Regions from separate parts of the Homo sapiens genome. Here regions 1, 3, 4 and 5 are each linked to region 2. The links come from fine-mapping of genetic effects on gene expression. A gene starts in region 2. Each other region holds a variant in brackets. All regions are shown on one strand. Distances are between the middles of the regions. Region 1 overlaps C13orf46 (chromosome 13 open reading frame 46). Region 2 holds the start of SWINGN (SWI/SNF complex interacting GAS6 enhancer non-coding RNA). Region 3 has its middle 15 kb from the start of CFAP97D2. Region 4 has its middle 15 kb from the start of RASA3. Region 5 overlaps LINC00452 (long intergenic non-protein coding RNA 452).

The links. PIP is the estimated chance that this variant, and not a neighbour inherited with it, causes the effect.
Region 1: its variant is the best candidate, but not a certain one, in a credible set for the expression of SWINGN in blood mononuclear cells (TOPMed, PIP 0.63).
Region 3: its variant is the best candidate, but not a certain one, in a credible set for the expression of SWINGN in whole blood (TOPMed, PIP 0.56).
Region 4: its variant is the best candidate, but not a certain one, in a credible set for the expression of SWINGN in whole blood (INTERVAL, PIP 0.54).
Region 5: its variant is the best candidate, but not a certain one, in a credible set for the expression of SWINGN in fibroblasts (GTEx, PIP 0.63).

The regions. Positions count from the first base shown.
Region 1 is chr13:113,962,711-113,966,710 of GRCh38, forward strand. C13orf46 (chromosome 13 open reading frame 46) reads right to left here. Exons shown (of 7, transcript NM_001365455.2): 6 at 2,217-2,284. Among named protein-coding and RNA genes, the nearest start is that of C13orf46, 9.4 kb to the right of the region's middle. The variant C/T (reference allele first, on the strand shown) is at 1,942.
Region 2 is chr13:113,925,382-113,932,001 of GRCh38, forward strand. It overlaps SWINGN (SWI/SNF complex interacting GAS6 enhancer non-coding RNA), which reads right to left and starts at 3,610. Exons shown (of 1, transcript NR_047495.1): 1 at 1,133-3,610. It also overlaps a transcript of C13orf46 not described here. RefSeq lists an enhancer at 5,556-5,625.
Region 3 is chr13:114,160,952-114,167,571 of GRCh38, forward strand. No RefSeq gene overlaps it. Among named protein-coding and RNA genes, the nearest start is that of CFAP97D2, 15 kb to the right of the region's middle. RefSeq lists an enhancer at 801-1,701. The variant A/C (reference allele first, on the strand shown) is at 3,631.
Region 4 is chr13:114,144,313-114,150,932 of GRCh38, forward strand. No RefSeq gene overlaps it. Among named protein-coding and RNA genes, the nearest start is that of RASA3, 15 kb to the left of the region's middle. RefSeq lists enhancers at 4,008-4,067, 4,398-4,577, 6,485-6,620. The variant C/T (reference allele first, on the strand shown) is at 3,890.
Region 5 is chr13:113,905,214-113,911,833 of GRCh38, forward strand. The region is part of intron 3 of LINC00452 (long intergenic non-protein coding RNA 452); the gene reads left to right. Among named protein-coding and RNA genes, the nearest start is that of LINC00452, 13 kb to the left of the region's middle. The variant C/T (reference allele first, on the strand shown) is at 3,342.

The DNA.
Region 1 (4,000 bases), 36 kb after region 2:
AAGGGGGATGGAGGCTGAGACCAGGAGATTTCGACCCAGGATTGTCCAGCTTGGGGCAGAAAACAGCCATCGAGCTGTGTGCCGAGTGCCAAATCCATCATCAGGAAACGATGAGAAAAATAGAGCTGTACTTGGAAAATACCTGCCCATTTTAAGCCCAGACTCAGGAGTCAAAACAACCCCAATGTCCTAGTGAAAGCTGGTGTGACCTGGTTACGGTAGGAGTCAAAAGAGGCAGAGACTCTGCTGAGTTGGGGCAGAGTGCAATGTTCTCGAGGACTTTCTCTCTCCCTGGAGACATAAAAATCTGAGAGCAGGTAGCGCAGGTAGGGCTGTCATCATCACAGCAGCAATCCGTCAGCAAAGCCAGACCAGTCGGGGGCCGAGGGCTGCAGCTCTCAAAGCTGGCCCTGGGCAAGGATGCCGCTTGGCAGGTACAGCTGCAGCCCCTGTCCTCAGCCTCCCCGCTATCCTCAGCCTCAGCCCGTCCTCAGCCTTGCCCCTGTCCTCAGCCTCGGCCCCTGTCCTCAGCCTCGCCCCTGTCCTCAGCCTCGGCCCTGTCCTCAGCCTCGGCCCCTGTCCTCAGCTTCACCCCTGTCCTCAGCCTCGGTCCCTGTCCTCAGCCCTCGCCCCGTCCTCAGCCTCGGCCCGTCCTCAGCCTCTCCCGTCCTCAGCCTCGCCCCTGTCCTCAGCCTCGCCCCTGTCCTCAGCCTCGGCCCTGTCCTCAGCCTCGGCCCCTGTCCTCAGCTTCACCCCTGTCCTCAGCCTCAGCCCGTCCTCAGCCTCGGCCCCTGTCCTCAGCCTCGCCCCTGTCCTCAGCCTCACCCCTGTCCTCAGCCCTCGCTCCAGTCCTCAGCCTCGCCCCTGTCCTCAGCCTCGGCCCCTGTCCTCAGCCGCAGTCCTTGTCCTCAGCCACAGCCCCCTCTCCTCAGCCTCGCCCGTCCTCAGCCTTGCCCCTGTCCTCAGCCACGGCCCCTGTCCTCAGCCTCAGCTGCAGCCACTGTCCTCAGTGTCGAAAGTCAGGTGCTCCCATGTGCTTTTAAGAGGTGGAAGCTGGGGTGATTTTTAAACATTTCTCTCTGTTGTGCTATTCCACATAATTCCCGTTATTGTAAATGACTGGTTAAAATGTTAATGTAACTGTTGTTTGTTTGTTTGAGATGGAGTTTCGCTCTTGTCACCCAGGCTGGAGTGCAGTGGTGCTATCTCGGTTCACCGCAACCTCCGCCTCCTGGGTTCAAGCGATTCTCCTGCCTCGGCCTCCCTAGTAGCTGGAACTACAGGCACCTGTCACCACGCCCAGCTAATTTTTTGTATTTTGGTAAACACAGGGTTTCACCATGTTGGCCAGGATGGTCTCGATCTCCTGACCTCATGATCTGCCCACCTCAACCTCCCAAAGTGCTGGGATTACAGGCTGAAAGAAGGTTTAGTATCATGTGACTGTTTTATAAAGCCGATAGAACAATTCATCCTTTAAAAAAATCTGTAAGAAATCAAAATACTGATAAACTGTTAATTCTGAGTGGTAGGCATTTGGACAATTGCTTTTTGTATTTTTGTGTGTTGCTTAAAATAAAACACTATAGATCCATGGGCCCCCTTCAATGGGCCAGTGTCTTCTCTCCCCACACCCATCTTCAGGGCCTCGGGCCTCGGGGAGTCTTGGGGCTTCCCTGGACCTACACAGCATCCAGCCTGGGGACACGGATCATCTCTTCGGAGGCTGCCTAGCCCCGGCCCCAGGGCCCGAGGCTTGTTGTGAGAGAAGCCTGCTTGGCTGTGACACCAGCCGTGTATGCACGGCTTCCCACTACCTGCAGGACCCAAGTCTGCAGCTAAAACCTAAACAGGAGAAGTCAGTACCATGCACTTATCACCTCTCCCCCCTCCTTCCTCCCTACTCTCCCTCCTCTTCCCCCTTCTCATCAGGTCCTTTTC[C/T]TGGCTGGTGGGTAGGAGACACGGCCTGGTTATGGGGTGAGGTGGGGCATCGTGAAGCTCGTCCCTGAGCCCTTCGAAGGTCCGATGTCCTGTTCCCTGCCCTCAGTCCCTCAGGCTCGGCAGGTGCTGAGCCTCGGCAGTGCCCAGGGAGAAGGGGGGACCGCCTGGGCTCGGCTCTGCCCACCACACACAAGGCATGGTGGGCACACCAGAGACCGTGGTGGGGGGAAAGTCCTCCTACCCCCACCTAGTGTGAGCCCACAAGCATCACTCACTCGTCTTCTGACAGATCTTCCACATCCATCTGGGACGGCTTCTCTTCCTTCTTGGCATCGGTGACCACCTGTGGGGAGTGGAGACATTTAAGGGATGGGAGGTGTCAGCCACGGGCACTGAGGCATAGCCTGTGGACCTGCTGGAGGATCAGGCTAGGGCACAGAGGCTGGATGACCTCCCATCAGACAGGGCTCTCTATTGACTGGACATTTCCAGTTAGGGGAACCTGACCAAGGAACTGCACCCTTGATGAGGCCTGGCTCCTGGACTGAAGACCAGGTCTGGCCTGTCAGCCCAACTGTGCCACTGACTGGCCCTCCTTGAGTCCTTAGAACTCATGTGCCCCAAGAATAGCCTTGTTGGGGGTTAACAACCAGCTCTCTCTGTGGCTCTGAGGGCAAAAGGGAGAGAAGGTACAGTCTGGAAAATAACTGACCCCCAGGAAGGAGCTTAAACTTGCCAAGAAAGAACTTCAATAAACTTCCAGAATGATGACTGTTCACTACAGCAAAGACATGGAGGAACACACCCCAGATGTTAGTGTTGGAAGTGCCCAGACAGGTCATTAAGTCAGCCTCTTCTTCTTACAGATAAGGATGATGATTATGGTGGTGATAATGTTGATGGTGATGACGATGGTGATGATGATGATTATAATGGTGGTGATGATGACGGTGACTATACTGGTGATGGTGGTGATGATGACAGTGATGATGATTGTGACAATGATGATGGTGATTATAATGGTGATGGTGATGATGATGGTGACAATGGTGATGGTGATTATAATGGTGGTGATGATGGTGAAGGTGATGATGGTGATGATGGTGATGGTGATGATGGTGATGGTGATGATGGTAATTATAATGGTGGTGATGATGGTGAAGGTGATGATGGTGATAATGGTGATGGTGATGATGGTGATGGTGGTGATGATGGTGATGGTGATGATGGTGGTAATGGTGATGGTGATGATGGCGATGGTGATGGTGACAATGATGATGATTATGATGGTGATGATGATGGTGATGGTGATTATAATGTTGGTGATGATGGTGACAGTGATAGTGGTGATGATGATGATGGTGGTGATGATGGTCATGATAGTGATGGTGATGATGATGCTGGTGATGGGAATGATGGTGGTGATGTGATGATGGTATTAATGATGGTGATGATGATGATGGTGATGATGGTGATTATAATGGTGATGATGACAATGGTGACGGTGATAGTGGTGATGGTGATGATGATGATGGTGATGATGGTCATGATGATGGTGATTATAATGGTGGTGATGATGGGGATAGCGATAGTGGTGATGGTGATGATGATGGTGACAGTGATGGTGGTGATGATGGTCATGATAGTGATGGTGATGATGATGCTGGTGATGGGAATGATGGTGGTGATGTGATAATGACGGTGATGATATTAATGATGGTGATGATGATGATGGTGATGGTATTAATGATGGTGATGATGATGATGATGTGATAATGATGGTGATGGTATTAATGGTGATGATGACGGTGGTGATGATTATAATGGTGATGATGATGGTGATGGTGATTATAATGGTGGTGATGATGGTGAAGGTGATGATGGTAATAATGGTGATGGTAATAGTGACGATGATGGTGATAGTGATAGTGGTGATGGTGATGATGATGGTGACAGTGATGATGGTCATGATAGTGATGATGATGATGATGCTGCTGATGGGAATGATGGTGGTGATGTGATAATGATGGTGATATTAATGATGATGGTGATAATGTTT
Region 2 (6,620 bases):
ATTCTCACCTCTGCAAAGCATTTCCAAGCATCTCCGTTTCCTCTGCATAAGCGACACGGCCCAGCCACCCGAGCCCTCGTTGCCATCCACCACTGGGCATCAGCTTCCACTCCCGTCTTTCTCGTGTCCTCTGGTCCAGCCCCTGGTGAGCTCCAGCCAAGCACCGCCTACTGGGCCTCTGGTCTTTACCTGTTCTGTTCCCTCTGCCTGGAGTTTTTTTAAGTAGAAAAATGCGAGAATGTGGAGTGGGAATGTAAAATGGTGTGGCTGCTGCAGAAAACACTTTGGTGGTTCCTGAAAAAGTTTAGGCATACACTTAGCATGGGACTCAGCATTTACCCCTTAAGCACACGCCCCATGGAAACAAAACCTGTTCCCTCGGAAACGCGCACACAGACGCTCGTAGCTACGTCCTTCGTAACAGCTGGAAGGCGGATGTTGGGAACAGGCCCCCCAAAATCTGGCCATAAACTGGCCCCAAAACTGGCCATAAACAAAATCTCTGCAGCACTGTAACATGCTCATGATGGTCATGACGCCCACGCTGGAAGGTTGTGGGTTTACCGGAATGAGGGCAAGGAACGCCTGGCCCATTCAGGGCGGAAAACCGCTTAAAGACATTCTTAATCCACAAACAATAGCGTGAGCGATCTGTGCCTTAAGGGCATGCTCCTCCTGCAGGTAACCAGCCAAACCCATCCCTTTATTTCCAGCCCATCCCTTTATTTCCCATAAAGAATGCCTTTAAATCTATAATCTATAAAAACAATGCTTATCACTGGCTTGCTGTCAATAAATATGTGGGTAAATCTCTGTTCAAGGCTCTCAGCTCTGAAGGCTGTCAGCCCCGATTTCCCACTCCACACCTCTGTATTTCTGTGTGTGTGTGTGTCTTTAATTCCTCTAGCGCCGCTGGGTTAGGGTCTCCCTGACCGAGCTGGTCTCGGCAGGCGGAGACGACCGGGTGTCCACCACAGGTGAAGGGATTAACAAATGGTGCCCGGTCCCTGGGGTGGGATATTATGCATCTGTGAACAGAAGTGAGACACTGATACACTGAGGGGACTCAGGGGCCACCACTGGGATGAGGCTTGGAAATGTGGCTTCCACCGAAAGAAGTGAGACACAAACGTTCGCACACCGCGTGATTCCTTTTATATGAAATATCCAAAACGGACAAATCCATAGAGACAGAAAGCAGATCTGTGGTTTCCAGAGGATGGGGAAGGAATGAGGAGTGATTACTTAATGGGGATGAGCTGTTGTTCTGGAGGGATGAAATGTTCTGAAACTGGAGAAGCAGAGGTTGCACAACGTCGTGAATCCAGCAAATGCCGCCGAAGTATATGCTTCAAGATGGCTGTTAAGTGAATTTCACTCCATAAAAGGTGTGTTTTAGAGGGTTATGCCCATGAGCGAGCCTACCTATACATGTGCAGTGTCACATTACTGAGACGATTCTGTTTAGAGCAAAGCCACCTACCTCCCACGTCCCTTTCCAGCCTGTCTTCTTAGCCACCTGCCTCCCACATCCTTCTCCAGCTTTGTCTCCTTGCATGCAGCCCTCTCAGGGCTTTTGAGGCCTGGAGGCCAAGGGTGCTGGGAGGTCCCACTTTGTACCCTCTCCCGAGAGCTTTGAGGGGTACCTGCCGCCTCTAGCTGTGCCTTCTCTGTGCCCTTCAACTCTGGAGTGAGGTCAGATCTTGGCTCTGGGGCCACCACCAGCTGTTTCAGGCTTGCAAAGTTCTGTCCGACAAAATACAGCTCCGCTTCCCTGTGGGGGGAAGCATTGGCCCCAACAGGCCTTCTTCACCAACGGGGACAGCAGTCCCTTGAGTGGAGCCCTGGACTCAGGGAGCTCTGGTCAGTGAAACTCTCAGCTAGGGGCTAAGGGTATGGGGACCTTCATATGTGGGACAGGCTCCTCGCTGGGGACGCTGCCACCAGGCCTGTGAGGCAGCCAGCCAAGTTCCACTTGCTGCAGCTGGGGCTGCTCTGGACGGCCAATCCAGACACCTCCCCCCTCTCCACCCTCTTTCCATCCTCAGGTTTGCATTTCTTAGGTCTGGCACTTCAACTGCAAAGTACAAGTCCTGGGCTATCTCCTCCTGCTCTGCTGAAGGCCACATCGATGCTTGGAAGGTAGGGTCAGCCCAGTCCCTTGCTCCACACACCCAACTACACTGATGGAGCGACCGTCTACACAGGGATCCTACGGTGGGGAGTGAGCCTTGCTGGCCTGATGCATGGCAGTGGTTCCTGCTCCAATAAGACCAAGAATAATTAATAACTGTGACTAAGTTAGAAGCTTTGGCTGCATCTGAATTCACCAGCGTTTCCAGCTCCTGAGGCCATGTGCGGTGTCACCTCACTCCTGGCAGACAGACTCCCACTCGGAGGATGATTTTTCATAGCCAGGGTCGCTCTGTGGACCTTGGATGGACCAACGTGCTTTCCATGTCCAACTTTGTCAAGATCCGGGGAAGATTCTCCAGCAAGTCTCTTGGAAACATGTGCATGTGGCCCCAGGCGACGTGAGGGGTGCAGTCTGCCTGCGTTATGCAATGCTCAGGCCAGTTTTCCCTGAGAGAGGAATGCTGCCGATCCTCTGCGGTAACCCACAAAACTCCACGGAGATGCTTGGAAGGAAAAGCATCGCGTCCTCCAGATGTTTTGAAATGTTCAAGTATTTAAAAGGGAAATGGAATTTCTGTTTATCCTTTTAAGTGACAATTATTCATTGCGTCTTCCTGGCCACAGCTCATTCAGCACTACTGCAGATCCGGCCAGACCCCCAGGAGCCGCGGCCCCTGCACAGCCAAGGCCAAGAAGCTCCCATCGTGGAGGGGGGCGCATTCCGGACCTGTGAGGCCCGGGGTTCGTTTTTATGCCTCCTTAAAGGGATGAGCCAGAGAAGAAAGTCTTCGCAAAGCCTTTGCCCCAGGAGGGGCGGGGCTGCGCAGGGCGCCTGTGGAGGCCGTGGCCGGGCAGGTGGGGAGGCTCACACACAGGCCAGAGGCTTCCCTGGAAACTGACGCCCTAGGGCAGGTCCAGCTCCTGGATGGTCGCAGGTGAAGAAACGCCAGGCCCAAGGGTCCTGGGAGAGAGAGGGGAACAGCGCCCAGGAAGAGGTGCAGGTTCCCAGGGACTGCAAGGGCCGCCGCCACCCTCCCACACCCCACCCTCGCTGCATCACCAGTCAGCCCAGGGCAGGCTGCTGACCCTCCCTTGGCCTCAGTTTCCTCATCTGTAAAATGGAAAAAGAAGCATGTCCACCTCACCAGTGGTCACAGTCACAGGTGCTGACATGGAGAAGGATTGATGCGTCCTCCTGAGTGCTGCCTTGTCATGCTATAAACCAGGAGGCCTGGCTCTCTGCCTCCCGGGAAGGTCTGTTTCTAATCCTGTGCTGGGTCTGCGTGGCTCCATGGCCTCAGAGGCTGACACCGAGTGTGGTGTCCCTGGGTCACCGTGCTCCTTGGTTTGGTCCAGCAGGAGAAAGGGCAGCCTGCCAAGGAGAAGGCTGTGAGCTTGGCAGGGGAGAACTTAGGCGCTGTGCCTTTGGGAGGCTGGGATTTAGATCACAGCTGGGAAGCTAAGTCCTGACTGCACTGGCCGGAACCAATGGGCTCCAGTAGCCGGATGCTCTGCCAAGTCAGGAGGTAATAACCGCCACGGCCTGGGAGAGAAGCTGGCACAGCCGTGGGCCCCTGCCCTGCGGTCTGGCCTCGCAGGTCCCCAGGCCGTGTACAGACACTGTGCGGCAGGGAAGCAGAGGCAGCCATGGGGAGCAACCCTGTTTCTCAGTGCTACATGCCTACTCTCCCTGAGCTGATGTCTGGAAGACAGTAAAGGAGACCTGAGGCAGTGCTGCCCCTCCTTCCGTCTGCCACCTCCTCAGGGCTGGCCCAGGCCCTGCAGAGCAGGTGGTGGTGGCTGCTGGTGGTAAAGCCCGTCCATCCAGAGCCTCGCTCTGCTCCCAAACCACCCACCTCCCGCTGCACATGTGGCAGCTTCAGGAGCCTGGCGGGGCTAAGAGGAGATGACAGACCCCAGCAAGGACAGGCTCAGCTTCTTGGGGACCGAGTCATTGCCTGTTGCTTCTCCTGGGGGCCTCGACTGTCCGAGTGTGTTCAGGCACACGGTGCCCTGTCTGTTTCCCAGGCACTTGGGCCAAGGCTGGACAGGGAGGTGCCATGTGGGACGAAAGCCCAGGCTGTGCAGTGCTGGTCACCGGGAGTGACCATGGGTGAAGTCGCGCTGTGAGTGACTGCCTGTTATCACTGACCACGCAGGGCCATCCTGGGTGACCCGCTGTGCCACAAGCAACTGGTTCACATTGGAGCCCCCCTCTGGAGCCCTGGGCAACCCGCTGCCAGTGGGCCTTTCTCCTGAGGCCCCTGGAGTCCCGGAGCATCCCGTGAGTTCATCTGCCATACCTGTGATTGCCATGTGGGCCCAGCGCCCTCCAATGGAAAAGCTGCATTCAGTTCTGCCCGAGGATCCCAGGCCTACGACACTGTCCTCAGGCTGCCAGGGAGCAGGAGGCTGTGGGGATCTGCGTTCTTGCCAGGCCTGGGAGCAGCAGCCAAAAAGTGGACTTACGTGGACAAAATGTTGGGCCAGGGAGGAGCCCTCGGCTCTGGACGGATGTCTCTGGTGCTTTTATGCCACGTGCATTTCTGCAGATTTGATGCCCGGCAGCCAGCACTGGGCTGTGGCCATGGTGGTGAGGCAGCCTTGGGTCTGCACGAGGCTCGGAGGCCTCCAGGAACCTCCCAGGAATGTGACTGTGCCTGGAGAGAAGCGCCATCTGCACGGCGCAGTCCAGATGCTTCTCTCCTACAAGCCCATCATCAAACACACAGCTGCCCAGACTTCAGCAGGATTTGTGCACAAGAAACGCAAAGGCACAGTCCATCGGGTGAGGCAGAGGTGGAAGGAGCACCGGGGTGGGAGTGGAGGAGCACCGAGGTGGGGGCGCAGGAGCACCGAGGCGGGGGCGCAGGAGCACCGAGGCGGGGGCGCAGGAGCACCGAGGCGGGGGCGCGGGAGCACTGAGGCTGAGCTGTCTCTAGTGATCTCTCAAGCCTCAGTGCAGTGGCCACAGGGCAAGGTGCCTCCTGGTGTGTCCTCGCCTCCAAATCAGGCTGCTCCACTTCCCAGGTCAGAGTCCTGGGGGGTTGTGTTGACCCTGAGCCCCCACGAGCATCCAATCCAGCAGAGCTGGAAGGACCCAAGAACCTGCATTCCTCATGGCTCCCATCATGCTTCCGGTCCAGGAGCCACCATCCAGACCACACTCCCATTCATCCCCTGGCCACGGAAGCTGAAGCCTTGGTTTCCCCACCTGTAAAGTGGGAGTATCAACATCACCCACATCAAAGGGCCTGGATTAGATGCGGTGATGCCCGTGGACTTTAGCAGCCCCGGTCCTCCAGGGGCCCTCCCAGGGAGCTGAGGCCCGGGTGGTCCTGGCGGCCGCTCCTTCTCCAGGCCGAAGACAGGAAGGTCTCTTGGGCTGACCTCAGGCAAGAGGCGGGGTGGGTCACGGCCTCCAGGGCCAGGCTGGGGCCTCCACAGAAAGCCCGTGGGTGGCGAGAGGGAGCCGGCTGGGGTGACTGAGGGTCGCTGGGTAGATGAGGGAGGGACCCGGGGTTCTTGTGTTCACGTGTGTATTTGCCCCGTGTTTCTGCTGACATGCCACGTGTGCAACAAACAGGCTTGGCGAGCCATCCCCACCACCCAGGCCGAGACGCCAGACGTGACTGGCACCCCAGGGTTCCCTCCCGGCCCCCAGAGGTAACCCCAATGCTGGTTTACCACAGATGACTCATTCTGCCTGTTTTAGGGTTTTGAGTAAATGAAACCCAACAGCGTGCAGTCTTTTTGCCTGGCTTCCCTTTAACCACGTCTGAGAGGCTCACTTTGCGGTTGCTTCTGTGGCTCCTGGACAGTTTCCCTTGTGCGGACACAACTCAGTGAGAGCACCCCTTCTTCCATTTGTAGACTTTCCAAATAGTCCAGGCGAGAGAGGCTCAGGTCTTGAGTTCAGGGAGGGGCAATGCACAAGCAGACGCCAAGTGGAAGGGAGTACACCCCTCCCTTGGCGGGGAGGCCCTCGGGCTGGTGGGGATGAGCGCCCCTCAGACGGCACCTGCGGGTGACAGGGTGTGACATTCTGCTGTTTCTCGGAAGTAACTCGCAAGCAGCATGGGGGTTCCTAGTGTGTTTCACAGACTCTCACCAAATGTTAGGGTTCACTCCTTGTCCTACAGCTTAAATACACCAAAAGTGAGAAAATTACGAGATAACATTTCCCTCAGAGACCCATATTCTGTGTTAAAGAATTCTTCCTTCTACCTAAATCCATCTCTTTACGGTCAGATGTCATTGGTTGTGGTATTTTGTCCATTTTCAGCTTTGTTTAGATTTTTTTGACATGCAATTAAATGCCCATATTTAAGACGTACGGTTTGATAAGTTTTGACATTCTGCTGCACCCACAGAGCCATGACCACAATCGAGACCATGGACATCCCCTCCCCCAGGCTGGCCCCTGCCCCGTCCCTCCACCCTCCTGCTCCTCTGATGACACTGACCTTTCTGTCACTGTAGAT
Region 3 (6,620 bases), 240 kb after region 2:
ACCAAAGGCCTTTTGGTAGCAGGTCATCTTTACAAATGTTGTATCTACTCCTGACTCATTTTCAAAGCAGGACTCACCGTGACCCCCCCTCATCCCGCAATTGTTCCACTGCCTCGTCATTCGTCCCCAGCTTGTGAGAACGCTCACGTTGGCCCTCCGTGCCCCTCCTGATTGTCACCCACTGGGTGAATCAGTTTCCTGAGCAAAGGTTCGCCTCCAATGAGGTCAACGCACATGTGGCAGGGACCCAGTATGGTTTGTTCGGAAACCCGTTTCATGCGGAGCCAGCAGAAGCCACGTTAAACGCACGCGTTCTTCCATCCCTCTGCTCACCGGAAGCGAGCTTCCCAAGGCGGGCACGGCGCCGCCCCCCCAGTCACGCGGCTTCCGCTTCCGGTCGTGCCCTCTCGCCTCTAACTAGAGAACGCCTCGCGGTGTGAGTGAAACTCTGGCGGCCTCGCTAACACGCCAAACCTCTGTCCTCAGAATACGAAGGGCAAAGTGTGTCCCACTCACGCGCAGGCTTCCCCGCGGCGGCCACAGCGGCGGGGGGCGGGGGTCGTGCTCACCGTCGTCCAGTTCACCGGCATGTTTTCAATCAGCCATCACGAGCGAAGTGCTGCTTCGTGTCCACCAGGGAAAGCTTCAGGGAGCACGTTATTGGCACTCAAGATGCCAGCCATGGGCTGCCTGGAACGACGGTTTTTATCATTTATGTGAGTCCTGGGACATTTTCTTCCAACAGACCTAAGTATGTATGACACCAGCATATTACACGAAGCCGAGAGGGGGCTGCTCTGGGTGAGCGTGGAGGAACACACGACCCCTCCCACGCTCACGTGCCCACAACCTCCAGGACAGCCCAGCCTGGGTGAACTGCAACTTCTTTAGCTCAAGGGACATCTGCTTTTCCCCAGAGGGGCCCCTGGTGCAGAAGCAAGTTGGGGAGTGTGCAGAGCCGGGAAGAAGCAAAGCGAGGGTATGGGTGGGAGGGAGTGGGAATCCTTGGATTTGGCAGAGAACAAGTAAATTTTCGGAAATCATAGTCAGCGTGGTCTCCACAAAGATGAGAGGGCAGGAACTCGATTGGAAGGGGGCCAGTGAAGCTGCTGTCAGGAAGCTCTCACAGGGCAGTAAACAGCTCCTGGCACCCGGAATAGGAGGAGGAAGTCGAGAACCCACAGCCGCCCTGCCCAGCCTGGCTCCTCCTCACCCGCCCAGGCTGCTGTGCTCCTCACGGGAGGAAAACCCGCCTGCGTCCAGCTACCTCCAGGAAAGCAACAACTGCCCGTCCTCGACTAAAGGCCAAACCTTTTAACATTTTTGTCCTTGACCACGGCATCAGCTGTGCTGTCTACAGAAGGAACTATATTATTCCCACTTAAATAGCTCGGTGTTTCGTCAAGAGAGTGCAAACACGAGGGCTTCGGTAGAGGGAGGAGACACTGGCTCAGGAACCAGAGCTCACGGTTCCTGCTGTCTCTGCCCCTTGACCTCGGTGTGAGGCGGCTGCGACTGGGTCTCTGCTGTGTAAATATTGTGCCTGAGGGCCATTTTGACAATGACCGTTTCTACTTTAAAAACAAAGCAGACCAAGGGAGTCTCTGGTCCAGGGATAAGGTGCCTGCAGTGCTTTTCCGACACCTAAATCTCTGCTTTGTCCTGAGAGAAACAAGCGTCACGAACTTAGCTCACTGTTGGTGAAGTGACGGCCGCCAGGGAAGAGTGCAGGGATCTCAGGAGAGACGCTCGGGTCCTTTTTCAAAACCAGTGTGATGCACGATATGTGACTACTCGCCAGAGTCTCGGGAGAGTGTGACGAGCGATGGGTGGCTACTCACCAGAGCGACTGGATTTCTGTCTGAGGCTACTGCATATGCTGGGTCTTAGCAAGCAACGGCCATGCGGCCATCAAGGCACAACAGAGAGCTCTTCTTCTAGGAAGTTCGAGGCATTAAAAATTTCCTCCACTGGGAGCATGAGCATAAATATCTTCCATATTGTTCCCAGTTTTTCTGAAGGCGAAAGAAAATAAAGAAGGCCAGTCAATTAGAAATCTGAATTTTTCTATTAAAGAAGGCAGGGGTTAGCCGGGCACAGTGGCTCACGCCTGTAATCCCAGCACTTTGGAAGGCCAAGGTGGGTGGATCACTTGAGGTCAGGAGTTTGAGACTATCCTGGCTAACATGGTGAAACCCTGTCTCTACTAAAAATACAAAAATTAGCTGGGCGTGATGGCAGGCGCCTGTAATCCCAGCTACTCGGGAGGCTGAGGCAGGAGAACTGCTTGAACCCGGGAGGCAGAGGTTGCAGTGAGTGGAGATCGCGCCACTGCACTCCAGCCTGGGTGACAGAGTGAGACCCCATCTCAAAATAAATAAATAAATAAAAATAAAGAAGGCGGGGGTTCCTGTCTCTATTTTTCCAGGAGAACAAATATTACCAATGTACAAAACTAGGGGGAGACAGGAGTGACTTTACCTCACTGCCAACGCCTCCAACACAGTCTCCATTCACAGGTCAAGACAGAAAAGGAGTTTCCTGGAAGACTGCAGAGTCTGCCACAGACCCAGGGCAGCTGGACTTCCTGCAGATCTAAAGCCAGGGCTGGAAAAGCCACCCAGAGCCCATCAGGCCTCCTGGACCTGCTTCTTGGTCCCTCTTCTCAAAGTCCTCTCCCCTGAAGGCTATTTCCCCTGCCTCTCCCTCATCTCATCTCCCACAGTCTCCTAGTGTCTCTGCCAGCCACATGCCGAGAGAACCAGCTGCGCCCCAACACTTCCAGTCTCTAGAGAGATCATTTCCGTGATCCATTCAGCTGGGCCCAGGCCGAGGGCAGGGGCAGGAGTGGTCATGTGTTAAGAACAGGGCAGACTGGGTGGGTTGTGGGTCGTGGGGAGCTGGGCAGACACCCTGCAGGGCGTCCACAACACCCGTTCCTAATGGGAATGTAACTGAAAGATAGCGGAGATGAGCTTTTCCCAGAGTTTGGGAAAAGCATAAGGAGTGAGGAAGGCTGCACCCTCACCAGCCTTCCCCAGTGACGACGGAGCTGTACACCCTCAAGCAGATGCTGTCAACTCCTGGGAGACACAGTTTCTTTACTGAAAACACGAGCCTAGACTAGGACTGGACGGTTCTTGCTTTGTTTTTTTGTTTCTTTCTACACCATTCACATTCCATTGGTAGAAGTGCTCCTTCCATACCCGGCAGGGGGACCGAGGGGGCCATGTGGCACTGAGCGGGCTGCCGGGACCAAGGGGGCTCATCAGCCCCTTAGGTGGGGTGGGGGCATGCACCGTTTGAGCACCACCGCCGGACTCTGCACCCAGCGAGGGACCCTCTCCTCCCTGCCTCTGACCACCACTGTGAATTACAACTCCAAGCAGTGCTTCCCTGGCCACGCAGGAGGAGTTACAGGGGTTGAGGAAGCGTGGCCTAAGGAGAGGCAGATGGGGGAAGGATGTGTGCTCTGCCGTCTTCAATACTGAGGGGCCTCGTGTGCAGAAGGACGTCGTTTCTTCAGTGTGACTTCAATGGGCAGAATTAGAATAAAAAGGTAAAGTTTATTATGGAAGAAGGTAAATCTCAGCTCATCTCAACCACTTTCTCTAAGTTAGAGTTGAGTTG[A/C]CCCCCGATTCAAAGGTGCTGCTTCGGGAAGGCACAGTGCATGTCCCTGTGCTGTCTATGGCAAGAACTTGATTCAAGGAGGATGGAAGCCAGAGGCACCCAGCTCCTCCACCATTCAGCCCGAGGCCCAGGAGCACCGTCCTTTCCCAGTGCTTCTACCTCTGGTCTTATTCGCCTCTTGTGACACAGCTATGATGTGACGTCCTGCATTTTACTGATGTGGACGCTGAGGTCCAAAGACAAGCAGCCTCCCAGGGACACACGGAGCTGGAGTCCCCCGAGTCTCTGGGCTCCTGGCTGGGGTTCCTGCCGCCTGCCCTGCTGCCAGCACAAGCGTCCTCGTCGCTGTCTGGGGTGCACGCTGGGGCATGTGCTTAGTTCGTACTTCCCATTCATGGAAGAGATGATGAGCCCCAGTAAGAAAATAATTTGAAAATAATTTACTGGTGGGTGCACGCTAAGTTCCCACAAGGAAACAGACATGCAGTTCGGTGCTGAGAGCTCAGTGACCATCCTGGGGACAAGTGGTGTGGGAGCGATCACACTGCACACCAGGCCACCTGCCCCCCAGCTTCCCAGCTCACCCTCACGCCTGTCTTCCTCACCCCAGCCCACCCACACGGCCCCTTCACCATGCACAGACCCTGGCAAAGCGCAGAGTGCCTTCACTCGAACTTTCTCAGGACTACAGCCTGCCCGGCCAGTCGGCCCTTCCTAGCCTGCTTGGAAGGTGAAGAAAGTGGTCTCCATGTCACCCGCATAAAAGGCGACGACTATCTGCTCGGATGTCATAGGCTGACCTTCCCAAAACAATCTCCCTCAGAACCAACCTAGGTGCTCAGTGTGAACTCTCACCCATTAGATTGACAGAGTGGTTCTCGACTGGGGTTGATTTTTGCTGCCATCTCTCCCCAGGGGACAGCAACGCCTGTAAACTCTTTGAGCTGTCACACTGGATGTGAGGCACACCTACAGCCATAGAATCCTAGAAGCCAGGGGTGCCACCCAGATCCCACAGCGCAAAGGACATCTCCCCACAGCACAGAATTGTTTGACCCAAAATATCGCTTTTCATCAGTGGCCTTCTAAACTCTGCCTCTTAGGTGATAGGCTGCTCCCACCTAGGACTGCGTGTTAAAATGTGAAAACGGGCGGAAGCTTGGCAGCATGCACAGCTTTAATCAGGGATTCCGTCTGGAATACCTGCTGGGAGTCACTCTCTCCAGGTTAGTGGCCATCGTGATAAGCGATTCTGGGGGAAGGAGGAGGAGGAGAAGTGGGAGGAGGTCTTGGTGCAGCAGGAGGCATTTAAGATGGGATGGACTGAGGAGCCGCAGTCGCTGGATTGGACCCAAGCCACCAAGCTGGACCACAAATGAAGCCCTGGATCCACACCTCCTCCTGGTCACAGTGACAGTTCCCACCTAGGACATCTGACCTTCTAAAGGCCAAGGCAGTTCTTTACTAAGCAGACGAATACTACTTTCTTCTCAATTTCATTTTCCTTCTCAGTTGGAGGAGAGGGTGCAGTTTGTATTTCATTGAATTTTCTCCTTTTCTTGAAGGGAAGGATATGTTGCCAAAAATACTCATGAACTGCTTCCTTGTTTTTGTGATGGAGAAAATGATTATTTATTTTACAATTGCATCTGCATTAAGATGGCAACAAGGGGCCGTGGGCTGAGGGGTTAGGGTCCTGTCCCCTCTCTGTGCGCTGGAGAGCTTACTGGGCATCTTGCAGGTCTCCTGGACAGAGGCCCCAGGGCTCAGAAGCACACACACACATCCTGTCTAGTTTGTGGGACCCTGCAGAGCCCAGGCTCCAAGGGCTGCTGAGATGGCTCAGCACACGCGGGTCTGAGCATCAAAGGCTTCTGTGCCTTGCGCCGCCCCCGACCCCGCCTGCAGCCTCAGCTGCCCTCTGCCTTCCTGGCAGGCACTGCCCATGGGTTCTCCGCCAGGGCCTGGCTGCTTTCCAGCCTGTGCCCCAGCCCCGGAGGGACCGTCCCCTGCAGATGACATGAGCTTTGCCTAAGGCCAGACTTGAGGACCAGTAACTAGGGACAAAAAAATAGCTGCTCAGAATAGCACAAAAGCTGTTGTTGTTCAGTTCTGAAAGTCTTACTGCATCCTATGGCCAGATGAAAAAGGAACCGAGGCGGAGACCCCGGGCAGGACGTGGTGCTTTTGCAGACAGTAAGGGAACCAGGCAGCCTCCAGCTCTGGTGTGCTCTCTGCCCGCATGGGTCTGCAGCCCCTGCTCCCTCTCCTCACCACGGGCTGCGAGCTCTTGGCATGGCTGCCCCAGCATCGGGGTTGCCCAGGTTTCCTGGCAAAAACCAACTGAACGTTCAGATCACCTCCCTATTCAGCTGGCTTGGAGCAGAGAGCAGGAATGGTGCCTGGCCTCCTTCCCAGGCAGCCTTCCTGGGAAGCCTCCAGGGCCCTGGAAGTTGAGTGTCCGGTGCCTTCTTGTCTGTGGTCTCCTCTCTGTGATTCCCTGGGACATCCAAGGCCTGAAACAATGTGGGGCTGAGGAAGCAAGGACGCCTTCGCCAGCCAGGCGGTCAGACACCATGAGGTCCCAGGGAGGGGCTGTTCAGACACCGACGGCCGAGGGACTCTTGTTTGCTTTATAAGAGAATCCATCTTGTGAGCAGGGTGGGCTTGCAGGCAGTGGTTTTGTGTTTTTTTGAATTTCTAAGCTCAGTAGGTATGAGATGGTGTCAGTGGAGAAGGGGCCGGCTGTAAAGATGTGATCAAGGCCTAGTTTGCACATCAAATAGATTTTCTTTAATTAACCACACAAAATGATAAAAACTTTAAAATGGCTTTCTTCCCACCTGTGAAAAGAAAAACTTCAGCTGAATTAAATCTAAAGGAGTTTAATTGAGCAATGAAGGATTCACGAATTGGGCAGCCCCCAGAATCACAGCAGATTCAAAGAGATTCCAGTGCAGTCATGTGGCAGAAGATTTATAGACAAAAAA
Region 4 (6,620 bases), 220 kb after region 2:
CACAAGGTCCTGCCTCTCGACTCATGCCCACCCCAGAGGTAAGGACCGTCTGCCCACAGCCTGGGCTTCCAGGCGCTGCAGCTGGGAACTGTCACCCCACCTGGAATGGTCCCCTGAGATGTGGCTCTGTCAAGGGCTGGGGACAGGTTCTGGCTCCGGGCACGTGGACTCTCGCCCACCCAGGTCCAGGACCCAAGGCACAGAGGCTGGGCTGATTCCTGGGGGCCTCGCTGTGCCCTTCCTGCACAGCCCCTGGGGGATTTGCAGGGTGTGGGGTCTTTGTGGGGCCTTGTCCTTCAGAGCTTCCTATTTGCCCCTTTCAAATTGGTTGAAGAAACCTTGGGGAGTCAGGAGAGAGCCGAGAATCAGGACTGAGTGAGAACAGCGAGCTGCCCTCCAAGGCCGCCTCTGACTGGGGAGGCTTCCGCGTGGCTGTGCAGTCACTGGGCTGATGAGGCTTTCCGCCCTTACAACACAGGTTCAACTACAACACCTCAAACTCAACCCCAACAGCTATGAAAGCAGCATCGGGGAATTGGAACGAAATCACTCCCGATCCCACCTCTGCTACATCCGAGCCATGTCTGTTCCTGCATTCATTTCCTGCAATTTTACTCCCCAGCATTCGTGTTTTCATGTGGTTCTAACTAAGGCCCTAGAGGCTACAGCCCCACGCCGTCCTTGCAGAAGCTGTAGCTCATCTCCTTCGCTATTTTAATTGAATGGGCACCAAGCGTTTGCCCTGGACCACCTGTGAAAGGCACCGAGGGAGAAGCCATGGGCTCAAGACCCCCCAGCCAGGGCTCGCCTTAGGACCCTTTACATATTTGAAGGGAGGCCAGGAAGGTGCAGCCACAGTTTCATTCTCTTATCACTCTGCCTGCATTTTTCAGGTTTCAATAAGAGCAGATATAATTAGAGGGGCTCTGTTCCTCCTGGAGAAAGAACACTGCAAATTACAGGGTATCTCTAATGAGCCATGGACCGGAAGACAGCATCACTGACCCCTCATCATCTCAGGCTCTCCTCTTGCCACTCCCACCATGACTGGCTGGATGACCAAGCAGGGGCCTGAGTGTTCAGCTACAAAGACAAGCAGCTCCATGCAGCCTTCAGAGAGGAAGAGAGGCAGGTGGCTAGAGAGCCCCCTGTGACAGATGGGCTGGTCCGGGCAGGAGGAAGGAGGGCAGGGGCTGGAGAGTCCCTGGGGACCAATGGGGCTTCTTGGCCTAAATGCCACGGGTGGGAGCTGGGGCAGCAGGGGTTTGTGAGGCACTCACCTGGATTATCTGTCATTGTTGTAGCTCATACAGTCCAAGGACCTCAGACTATAAATGTGTGGTGGTGAATTAACTACCTGTTGTGATGTTATCCTGGTCCTGTGAAGATTTACAAGGAGCCATGTCACTTCTCTGCCAAAACCCTGGACTGTCCTCCTGTCCCCCTTGGCACAAATCACAAAGCGCCATCGTGCACACAGGAGCCCGGGGGCTCAGGCGTCACCCAGCAGCTCCAGGCCTCCTGGCTCCAACCCTCTGCCTTCTTGCTTTCCCTTCAGCAGAACGGGTCTCTCCCTTCCCGGGGCCTTTGCACATTCCCCCTGTAGGAATGCTCTGTCTTGCTCTCTGCAGGAATTCCCTCTGCAGCAATGCTCTGTCCCCAGGGATCTGTGTGTTGCTTCTCTCTGAGGACACCTGCGAGCGAGATTTCCTCGACTACACAACGTCAAATAACTGGCCCTTACCTGCATCTGCCCTGCTTTATTTTCCTGAGTAACACGCACGTAACACGCGTCACCACCTGGCCTGCTCACTGATGTGACTGCTCATTGACCCTCCCAGACTCAGTGGGGTGAAGATATCTCATTCCTAATTGCATCTCACTTAGCAGTAATAAACAGAACACGAATCTGCATTCAACGGTCGATGCTTCCACAGTGTTTCCTCCAATACTCGAGAATCTGCTCCACAGGTAAACGGACTTCTCCAACTGGTGATAGAAATGGTGGTGCCCGTGGTGGTGGGAACCCACACCCACCCTCAGACTCCAACTCGCGCATCTCCGCAGGCCCAACAGCCCCCGCTCCAGTGGCGCAGAGACCCCCGAAGGCCGGCACCTGGACGTTCCCCTTGAGCTATTCACTTAAGAAGAAAAAACAGTCCAGTCTCCATAGGGCACTCTTCTCATCCATTCTGAGAATTGAAAATCAGGCTTTTTGTTTGTTTTGTTTTTAACCTCAAACAGCACTGTTTCTAAACCACGGGGAGTGAATCCAAATCTGAAGACAGAATATGGACTGAACTTCGGGGCTCCCTGGGCTGCTGGCTGTCAGCTCACCTGTGCCCACCTACCCCGTGCCCACCTGCTTTACTTACCATCCTGGAAAGACTTCTCAGTCTCAGCCATGGCCCATGGCAGCCCAGGCAGCCCTTGCCTTCCGCTCTCTGCGAGGGAGCCCCTGGAGGGCGGCAGTGGAAGAGACGCTCTGAAGCCTCAACAGCTCCAGAGACCAGTGGGCAGCCTTTCCATTCCTGTGTGCCGGCCTGACATCCCCCCGCGTGAACTCCCTTGCACACACACGAACACACACACACAGAGATTACCCACACGCCCATTCAAACAGCAACTTAATAACAAGGAACTGAAAAAAAGAAAGGCTATTAGACCCAAATGAGAATCACAAGGTGGATCCCAATGAGAACTGTCTGCAGCATCACACTCACCGCTGTGTCTGAGAACAGGATTTTCCATTTCGGCAGTGGATCTAAACCTGATGCCCAGGACCTGTTTTAAGCAGTGAATCAAAGATCACAGAAGTTAAAGTTTGGCAAGTTTTCGACGTCAAGGAGATGGAAAGCCTAAAATCAGTTTCTGAACCACTAAATTAGAGGGAACAGCCTTGCTCGCGAATTTTCCAGAATTCCACAAACAATTAAGAAGACCCAGGGTAGGAAGCACATACAATTTGTTTTCTTTGATGGTTAAGTTGGTTTAAGGCACAGAGTTGAGAAGACAGGCAAGAAGAAGCAACTGTTCAAGCCCCAAGGAGAATCCTGAACCGACCCAGCCCCCAAGGAGAATCCAGAACCGACCCAGCCCCCGAGGAGAACCCAGAACCGACCCAGCCCCCGAGGAGAACCCAGAACCGACCCAGCCCCCGAGGAGATCCCAGAACCGACCCAGCCCCCGAGGAGAACCCAGAACCGACCCAGCCCCCGAGGAGATCCCAGAACCGACCCAGCCCCCAATGAGATCCCACAACCGACCCAGCCCCCGAGGAGATCCCAGAACCGACCCAGCCCCCGAGGAGACCCCAGAACCGACCCAGCCCCCGAGGAGACCCCAGAACCGACCCAGCCCCCGAGGAGATCCCAGAACCGACCCAGCCCCCGAGGAGATCCCACAACCGACCCAGCCCCCGAGGAGACCCCAGAACCGACCCAGCCCCCGAGGAGATCCCAGAACCGACCCAGCCCCCGAGGAGATCCCACAACCGACCCAGCCCCCGAGGAGATCCCACAACCGACCCAGCCCCCGAGGAGACCCCAGAACCGACCCAGCCCCCGAGGAGATCCCACAACCGACCCAGCCCCCGAGGAGACCCCAGAACCGACCCAGCCCCCGAGGAGATCCCACAACCGACCCAGCCCCCACGGAGAACCCAGAACCGACCCAGCACCTGGGCAACATTCTGCCCCCGGCCTCCTCCACTTGCTGGGCATGCATCACCGTCATCTGCAGCCACTTTCCCCAATGCCAGAATCAGAAATTTTCAAAATGGTTGAATAGTATTTGGTTATTTTTTGATAGGATATAATGCTTTTGTTCCTTCTTTGACTTCACGTTTTCTTTGTTCTCTAAGCTAAATGCCAGCATTTAAACTGTATAC[C/T]GAGACACACAATTGTGTGAATATTAGCTTGAGGCTCTCTTAAGACAGACTCAGATATCCAAAGGCTTTGAACTCACAGAATTTTGTAAAACTCGAAGCACATTCGCACTGCCCTTTGGAACCTGCCTTGTCTACAGAGCTAATAGGCAAGACCCAGCTCACCCAGGGGGCTCGGGGATCCCCAGCCCTGCGTGACTTTGCAACACCAGCTGAGATGCCTGGTTCCCAGTTAAGTTACTAGGATGAGTTACAGCACTATTTATTCAAAACTCTGAGAGGCCCGTGTTACTGCTAATTCCAATTTTAACTTTTCTTCCAGAATGGCAGGAAGCGATGAGGGCAGCTGAGGTTTCCAGAGCTCGTGTGTAGCAGGCGCCACGGCTAGTGCATCATGTGAAATTATGTTGCTTTTCTCAACTGTGAGGTGGGGACTCAACATGGTTTCCATCGCAGCCCATACAGGCTGCTGTGGTTGACCAAGCTTCCTTTGCTGGCAGGGCTGGGTGTGTTCTGCTGGCTGCAGCTCACCACCATGCTCAGAATGGCTCATAATCATTTGTTGTGTACTGTTTTTTCCAAAGACACGTCTCTGAGACTACGTCAGCTGCACCTGGACATGGTCACACGTCAACATCATACAGAGTGGTTTCTCAGGTAGCAGAAAGTGACAAATGAGACACGGTTATTCTTGTAAGGCAACTGTGAAATAACAGGGTATCACACAAATTTAGGTGGCCATTGTCTTCGTCTCAAATTTTCTCCTTAAGAAATTAAAAACAGGAGAGAAAAACAAGTTTTCGATTAAAAAACAAGGAGATCCTGGGATCTCCGTGGGGGCTGGGTGGATCCTGGATTCTCCTCGGAGGCTGGGTCGGTTCTGGGATCTCCGTGGGGGCTGAGTCGGTTCTGGGATCTCCTCGGGGGCTGGGTCGGTTCTGGGATCTCCTCGGGGGCTGGGTCGGTTCTGGGATCTCCACGGGGGCTGGGTCGGTTGTGGGTTCTCCTCGGGGGCTGGGTCGGTTCTGGGATCTCCTCGGGGGCTGGGTCGGTTCTGGGTTCTCCTCGGGGGCTGGGTCGGTTCTGGGTTCTCCTTGGGGCTTGAACAGTTGCTTCTTCTTACCTGTCTTCTCAACTCTGTGCCTTAAACCAACTTAACCATCAAAGAAAACAAATTGTATGTGCTTCCTACCCTGGGTCTTCTTAATTGTTTGTGGAATTCTGGAAAATTCACGAGCAAGGCTGTTCCCTCTAATTTAGTGGTTCAGAAACTGATTTTAGGCTTTCCATCTCCTTGACGTCGAAAACTTGCCAAACTTTAACTTCTGTGATCTTTGATTCACTGCTTAAAACAGGTCCTGGGCATCAGGTTTAGATCCACTGCCGAAATGGAAAATCCTGTTCTCAGACACAGCGGTGAGTGTGATGCTGCAGACAGTTCTCATTGGGATCACATTTTCTTCTCTGTTCAGGTGGAGGCATTTCATACATTTTTTACCAGGACCAGACAACCTTGGCAAATCATCTAGAAAGCACAGTAAATGTGAAAATGTGATTAAATAAACAGGTGTTGGATTTCAGAATACTGTTTTATTTTTTTTCCTCAAAAGACATCTGCTTACCAATCTCAGTGTTACTGGGGCTGAAGGCCATGCTCTTTCCAATGATGGGACTACACTCAAGTGCTAATTTATTACAATTACAAGTTTCCCTTCACCACTGCTGATGGCATAATTTGACCACAAGTGTTTTGCAAATATATCACACCTGGTATTCCAGGACCCACTTCAACCACTGGCTTGACTCAGAATTTTCCAACAGGGACAATTAGCATGTGCCACCTGCTGGAAACACTAGCCACACCTGAAGTGAAAGGAGAATCCTGGAAAGTCTTCCCCTGGAGCTACCAGACTCCCCACTCTCGAGTCTGGTGGACACGGCACTGTCAGGACCCCTCCCCTCGGCAGAGAGTGGTGGTCGGCTGCAGGTCTGCCCACCGTCTGACGGGATTCCAGCTCTGCCCCAGTGCTTGGCACCTGGGTGCTTCTGTTAAACCCAGTCCCTCCCAGACCCTTCCCAGATTAAACCTGGACCCAGGACCCCGCCCTTAGCTGCATTATCACTGCCCAGCAGACCTGACCCTAACCCTAACCGCCAGAGATCCTGTTAAGCAGGTCTATGGTGGGGCCCAGAATTCACACTTCATCCACTTCCCAAGTGATGCTTTACTGTTGGTCCCAGAATAGGGTGATAGCCCCTCAGTCTGCCAGGGGCAAAGGAGGGTTCCTGTGACCTGGGACTTTCAGCGTTGAAGCTGGAGCAGCCCTAGGGCAAAGTGGGACGGTCACCTCACCTGGGGACCTCACCTGGGGACCTCACCTGGGGATCACACCTGGGGACCTCACCTGGGGACCACACTTTGAGAACCACTTACCTGGATCCTTTATTAATCCTACGGTGGAGAAAAACTGCTGACATTAATTGTGCTGAACTTTGTATTTTTATTGCAGACTTCTTCCTTCGAGATGTATGTGCACAAGAGAAGATAACAAATGAGTCCCCAACACCTAATCTGGAATTTTTATATTAAGTTTTCTCTCTCTTAGAGAAGAATTTTCAAAGAGTAGTCATTCAAAAAGCAAAACACACAAACAAAACCCTAAAACTTTGAGAGACCATTTTATGCCTGGAGCCAAAGATGAATTTTATAGGCTTTGCTTCTTTAGGTCTTGGC
Region 5 (6,620 bases), 20 kb before region 2:
CAGGAGTCCTGCGTCTACAGGCTTCTCCAGGAGCGATCTCTCTGTCAGGCTAATTAAACGGCAGCTACTCCCCAGGACAGTCCTGGAATCCTTGCTGAATCGTGGAAGCTCCAGGCAACCACAATACCCAGAATCTTTCCGTCACAGTTTAAGCCAGAGGTAGGGTCCCAGCAGGGGCCACTCGACCTTGCAGGAAAGCTCCCACATCCTACCCACGGGATGTTCTGGACCCCACTTCTGTTGTTGAGGTGAGGCTTTATTTTACTTCAAAAGTGTAGTACTTAGAAAAAAGTCAAGATAGTTGTATCTAGGAAGTAAAGATTCGTTTAATAAATTATTCAAAACTTCAGTATATCCTATTGCAATAATACTGAAACCAACTAAGAGAAAGGATGACGATACCCATCAAAGGGAAGTTAAGACCATCTTCTTAAGTAAATCAGAACCGGTGCCTGCACAGAATGAGCTGCTAAAAGAGATTTAAAAGCAATGAAAACACACAGATACGACCTGCCGTGTTCGTAATGTGCAGCCCAAGTGCGATTTCATATGACAGTTTCCCAAATTGCACCCTTCTGTGTGCAGATTTCAAAGTTTTGCCATATCCATGTGCTCTGAATTATTGTCTACCTAGGGCATCTTCAATAGACTCATTAAATACATTTAAATGTAAAATATGTTTACATTTAAATACATTTAAATACATCTGTGTGAGATTGAAGGTCCATTGTGCTGCCTGGTTTTTTCTACAGCACACTAAAATAAATTAGTAACTATTTTAAAAAATATCCATCCAGGTACCACCTAGAGCCCTGTCATATCCCCTCTGATCATCACCCACTGGCACTGGGTGTGACACCTTCCCCATGGGAACATGGCAGGACAACCCAGGAGGAGTCAGAGGACAGTGGGGGTCAGAACAGAGTGGGCAGCGCTGTGCGCAGTCCCCCGCCGGACGGCAGTGTCCTGAAATGTCAGCATGCTGGCATTTTATCCTACTCCTTTTATTAGGGAGCCTGAAATTTAAAAACATAGGCAGGCCCTGCTTATCAACACGGGTAATTTCCTATCTCGAGTGCATTCTCACTGAAGCAGGCCTTCCTATGATGTGTCCTAGGGAGATGGGCGTCACAGTTTGGGTTAACACTGAAAAACGTAAGGACAGTATAAAGATTTGAGTAGTAACCAAGATGGCACTCTTTAAACTTCAAACAATGTTTTTACAATTAATTTTTTTCTAATTATAAAAGTAATCCGTGTAGATTGCAGACCATTTGAAAAATACAGGAAAACACAAAGAAGGAAATAAAATTTATGCAGAGATAACCACTACTATGAAGTGGGCACTGAGTTCCATTAGGAAAAATTCCTAGGGGAGGAATTAGGGAATCAAATATTGAGTTTTCCTGTCAAGGGTGGTGCCAAGCTCTTCTGGTTGGCCACACATAGCCGACATGCCAGGCCAGCCTGCACCCTCCATCCCTCCACACACATCCAGAGCCGGGGGCCCAGGTGGCCTCTCCCACAGCTAAGGCTCAGCAGAGCCAAGGGTGGCTGCCAGGCCCGCTGGTGCCCTCTGCATGCATCTCTGCCTCTTGGGAATGGGCCAGGACTGCAGAGTGGGAGAGCGCTCAGGAAGGCTTGGTGGAGACAAACTGGCAAAGTGTTTTTAATGCTGCAAAACCAAATATATGCAAGAAAGCTGTAAAAATTGGAGGAAGATGACATTCAAAGGGATTCTGCCCTCAGATCACCATGACAGCATCTTTAATTCTTGCCTTAATTTAAGGAAATAAAGCGTAAAACCATGAGTGATGAATTATAAGATTTTTAAAATTTCTTTTCTTTTTGCCAGGAAAAAACAAATTCAAAGAGCAGACCTCACAGAGATGTTCTCACAAGAATCAAATCAATTCAGACTCATATATTTTAAGTTAAAAGGAAGCATTTGAGATGTATATGTATCATTGTCAATTTCCTGCTTTACCTGATTTTTTCACTTATTTGAAAATATTTCAACAAATAAAAGGGCTCCTAAGTGTTCAGCATGTTTCTGCATCTAGTCACCTGCTTTTTCATGTCCCTTAGTGGAGTTTTATATTTCTGTTTGCTTTACAAATGTGTACATGGTGGGTTTTATATTTTTATGCTCTCAGACTTACCGGTCCTCCCATCTCTGGTTTCTGCCTTTGGTATCATGCTGACATCTCTCAACTGACCCAATTTTTTCCTATAGTTCCTTACAAAATTTGTTGTTTCTTCAATATAAATTTTGTACTCATCTCTTGGCCTAACAAGTCCTGGGTATTTAAGATGCTGGGTTGTTATTTCGAACAGGCTCCCCCTCACTCTTGCTTGCGAGGTGGTTATTGCTAGCATCTGGGAATGCTATTGGATTTCTATATTGATTTTACTCACCATCATTGTAATTTCCTCTCTTAATTTTACTAACTTTGAGTCCATCCTTTGGGGTGTTTGGGAAAGTTTTTTGGCTTGAAGTTCTGACTCTGGAATCAGCCAGACCTGCGTTTGCATTCCAGGAGTAGCATCTGTAAGACGTAAGCCTTGGGCAGGTCCCGATTCTCTGCAAAATGTGTGTGGAATGAGACAGAGTGGCTGGAAAATGTATACAGGGCCTGGCACAAAGAGACGCTTGGATGTGTCATCTGCAGGTGGTGATAGTTTCTTTTTCTTTCTTTCAAATACTGCACACTTTGTTTATTTGCTGATTGCTCTTGCTGCACTGGTAGAGCTTCTAGAGGACCTGTGGCTACAGACGGTCTCCTGCTGCAGCCCTGAGCTGGAGAAGCCCCCTGTTTTTGGGCTGAGGGTGCGGGTGTTTCACGTTCAGGGTCAGGAGGCTCCTCTCAATTTGTGCATGGTGCAGACGTCCCTGTGGTCTTCTTTGATAGATTTGGGGAGCCTGAGTTGCTTCTGTGGCTGAAGAAGTTCTCAAGTCCCGGTAGGAGGAAGCCAGGGAGCCTTTCGGTGCTTCGTGGATTGGATATGCCATTAAATACCTTACAGGGACTGCGCTTGGCTGAAGTCCAGGTGGTTTCTGGGACAGCTGGGCTCAGGGCAGGGTCCTGTCGGGCTCCCTGGGTGTCAGCGGCACCTGCCCCTGCAGGTGCTGCTCTTTGAGCCTCCCCACCCCCACTTCTGCTCCCACCGGGAGGATCTGCTGGCCTGGTGGGGCCCAGGAATGCAGAAGACTTTCCTCCTCCTCCCCCACCTTTCTTCTCTCTTGGTTATCTCTAAGTCTAAAGGGTTGTGGAAATGTGTTGGGCAAAAACAGATGGGAAGCCTCCAGGGAGAGGCAGCCTGTCTTCAGCAGGGAGATT[C/T]ATGGCTTTCGATGTACAGCCAGGAGGGTGAATAAAAGCTGGCACGTAGAACACATTCAAGTGCGTTTTCCACTGACTTTAAAAAGCAAAAACTTGTTAAGGAAGTTTCCTTTTATTTCTGGTTATCAGTAATTATTTTTCAGGTAAGGTTGCTAAATTATATCATTGCCTTTTCAGCAATAATGATGAAAACCAAAGGATTTCCTCTTTTTGACCTACTTCCCTTTCTGATGTGATGAATTAGTGTTTTAAATGTATAACATGTATAAATATGGCTATATTTTCTAATATTGAACCAATCTTGCAATCTTAAGATAAACACAGACAGGTCTCATGTATTATTATTTTACTATGTGGCTAGATGTGATTTGCTAAAAATTTGATTAGAAATTTCTTTTTAAGTTTTTAAGATCAACTTTATTGAAGTATAATTCATGTATAATAAACCCTTTGGAGTGTCCAATTCAATGACCCACCACAACCAAGATACAGAACGACCGAGCCCTCCCTCCAGACTCTGCGGATTCTCTGCAGCTAGGGCCCCTTGGCCCCACACCTGGAGCCGCTGATATGCTGTCACTGTGTGTTTGTTTGAATTTTTTGCATTACACGTACTGCATTCTGATTATCCACCTTCTGTTGATGAACATTTAGGTGGTTTCCAGTTTTTGGCTTTCCACTTCTCCTGGATCAACACCTACAAGGGGAATGGCTGCATCATATGATAGGTGGAAACTTTCAAACTGTCTTCCAAAATCGTGCGATGTGCTGGCTTTTCTGGTTGCTCCACATCCTCACTAATACCAGCTACAGTCAGTCTTTTTCATTTCACCCTTTCTAGTGGATTTGTACTGGAGTCTCTTTGTGGTTTTAATTTGCATTTTCCTGATATGCTTATTCAACACCCATATATCTTTTATGTCTGTCTAAATCATTTGCCCACTCTTTTGTTGGGTCATTCGCCATCTTCTCATTGATGCATAAGAGTTATTTATCTTAGACACAAGTTTAGATATATGTATTGCAAATATTTTCTCTATTCTATGATTTGCTTTATTGTTCCCTTAATGGTGTCTTTCCCAAAGCAAAAATTTTAAATTTACCAAGTTTTTCTTTAATGGTTTATGGTCTTTTGTGTCATAGCTAAGAAATATTTGCTGGCTTTGAGACTTTCTTCTAGAAGTTCTACAGTTTTTGGTTTTACATTTAGGGCTATGATTCATTTTGAGTTAATTTTGGTGTATAATATCAATCAATGTTCATTTTTTCAGCCAGGCGCAGTGGCTCACACCTGTAATCCCAGCACTTTGGGCAGATTGCTTTAGGTCAGGAATTCGAGAACAGCCTGGCCAACGTGGTGAAACCCCATCTCTACTAAAAATACAAAAATTAGCTGGGTGTGGTGGCAGGTGCCTGTAATCCCAGCTACTTGGGAGGCTGAGGTAGGAGAATCGCTTGAACCTGGGAGGTGGAGGTTGCAGTGAGCTGAGAACACACCACTGCACTCCAGCCTGGCAACAGAGTGAGACTCCGTCTCAAAAAAAACAAAAAACAAAAAACAAAGGATTTTTATATCAATAAAGGACATTGGTCTATGGTTTTCTTTTTTGTTATTGTCTTTACCTGGTTTTGGTATTAATATTAATTTTGTAAAATGAGTTGGAAAGTGTTCTTTCCTCTTCTATTTTCCAAAGGAGATTGGGTGGAATTATAAATTCTTTAAACATTTGGTAGAATTCTCCAATAAAACCATCTGGGCCTGGAGATTTCACTTTTGGCAATTTTTAAATTACAAATTCAATTTTCTAAATAGTTGTAAAACTATTCAAATGATCTATTTCATATTGGATGTGTTGTCGGGTTTTTTTTTTTAATGAATTGGTCAATTTCATCTAAGTAGTCATATTTACATAGAATTGTTTGCAGTATTCCTTTAATATCCTTTGATGTCTGCAGGGTCTTTAGTATGGCCCCTGTTCATTTCTAATATTGATAATTTATGCCTTCTCTCTTTTTGGTCAGTCTTGCTACAGATTTGTCTATTTTATTGATCTTTTTAAAGAAAAAGTTACTTGTTTCCTTGATTTTTCTCTTTTGTTGTTCTTTTTTCAACTTTGTGGATTTCTGTTCTTATCCTTATTATTTCTTTCCTTCTGCTATTTTGGGTAAAATATTATTTTGCTTTTCTTTTTCTAGGCTCTGGAGGCGGGAGCTTAGATTACTGATTTGAAACTTTTCTCTTTGCTAATATAGGTATTTAGTATTATAAATTTCCCTGTCAGTACTGCATTAGGTATATCACTTAAATTTTGATTTATATTTTTATTGTCATTCAGTTTAGTGCATTGATTTTCTTTGACTTTCTCTGTCACCCATGGATTCTTTAGAATAGTACTGCTTAGTTTTCAAGCATCTGGACATCTTGTTATCTTTCTGTTATTGATTTCTAACTTGATTCTATCGTGGTCAGAGAACACATTCTCTGTTTAAAATTCTTTTTAAGTCTGTTGAGATTCGTTTTATGGCCCAGGATATGGTCTATCTTAGTATACATTCCATTGGCATTTGGAAACAGCATATATTCTGGTGTTGTTGAGTGGGTGTTCTGTAAATGTTGATTAGATTCTATTTGTTGATGGTGTTATTGGGTTCTATGTTCTTGCTGATTTTCTGTCTAGTTATTTTATCAATTATAGAGAAAAGCATGTTGAAGTCTCCAACTATAATTGTAGACTTGTCTATTTCTCCTTTATGTTCTATTAATTTTTGCCTCACATACTTTGTATATCACTATTAGGAGCATACATATCTAGAGTTCATTCCTATGTCTTTTCGGTGGATTGACCCTTTTATCATTATACAATGTCCCTCTCTATCTCTGGCAATTTTCTTTGTTCTGTCGTCTATTTTATCTGATGTACTATAATCACTTCTGCTTCTTTTTTGCTTAATGTTTACGTGATAAACTTTATTCCATTCTTTAACTTTCAACTCTTCTATATTGTTATGTCTGAAGTGAGTTTCTTGTAACTAACACATAGTTAGGTCACAGTTTTTAATCCATTCTACAAATGTTTGTCTTTAATTAATGCAGTTAGACCATTTACATTTAATGTAATTATTGATATTTTAGGACCTAAGTCTGACATTTTTTTTTGTTTTCTGTTTGTTCTGTTTTTCAGTGCTCTTTTTTCCTTTTCTGTCTTCCCATGAGTTACTTGAACAATTTTTATAACTCCATTTTGATTTTTCTATAGTGTTTTTAAGTATATCTCTTTA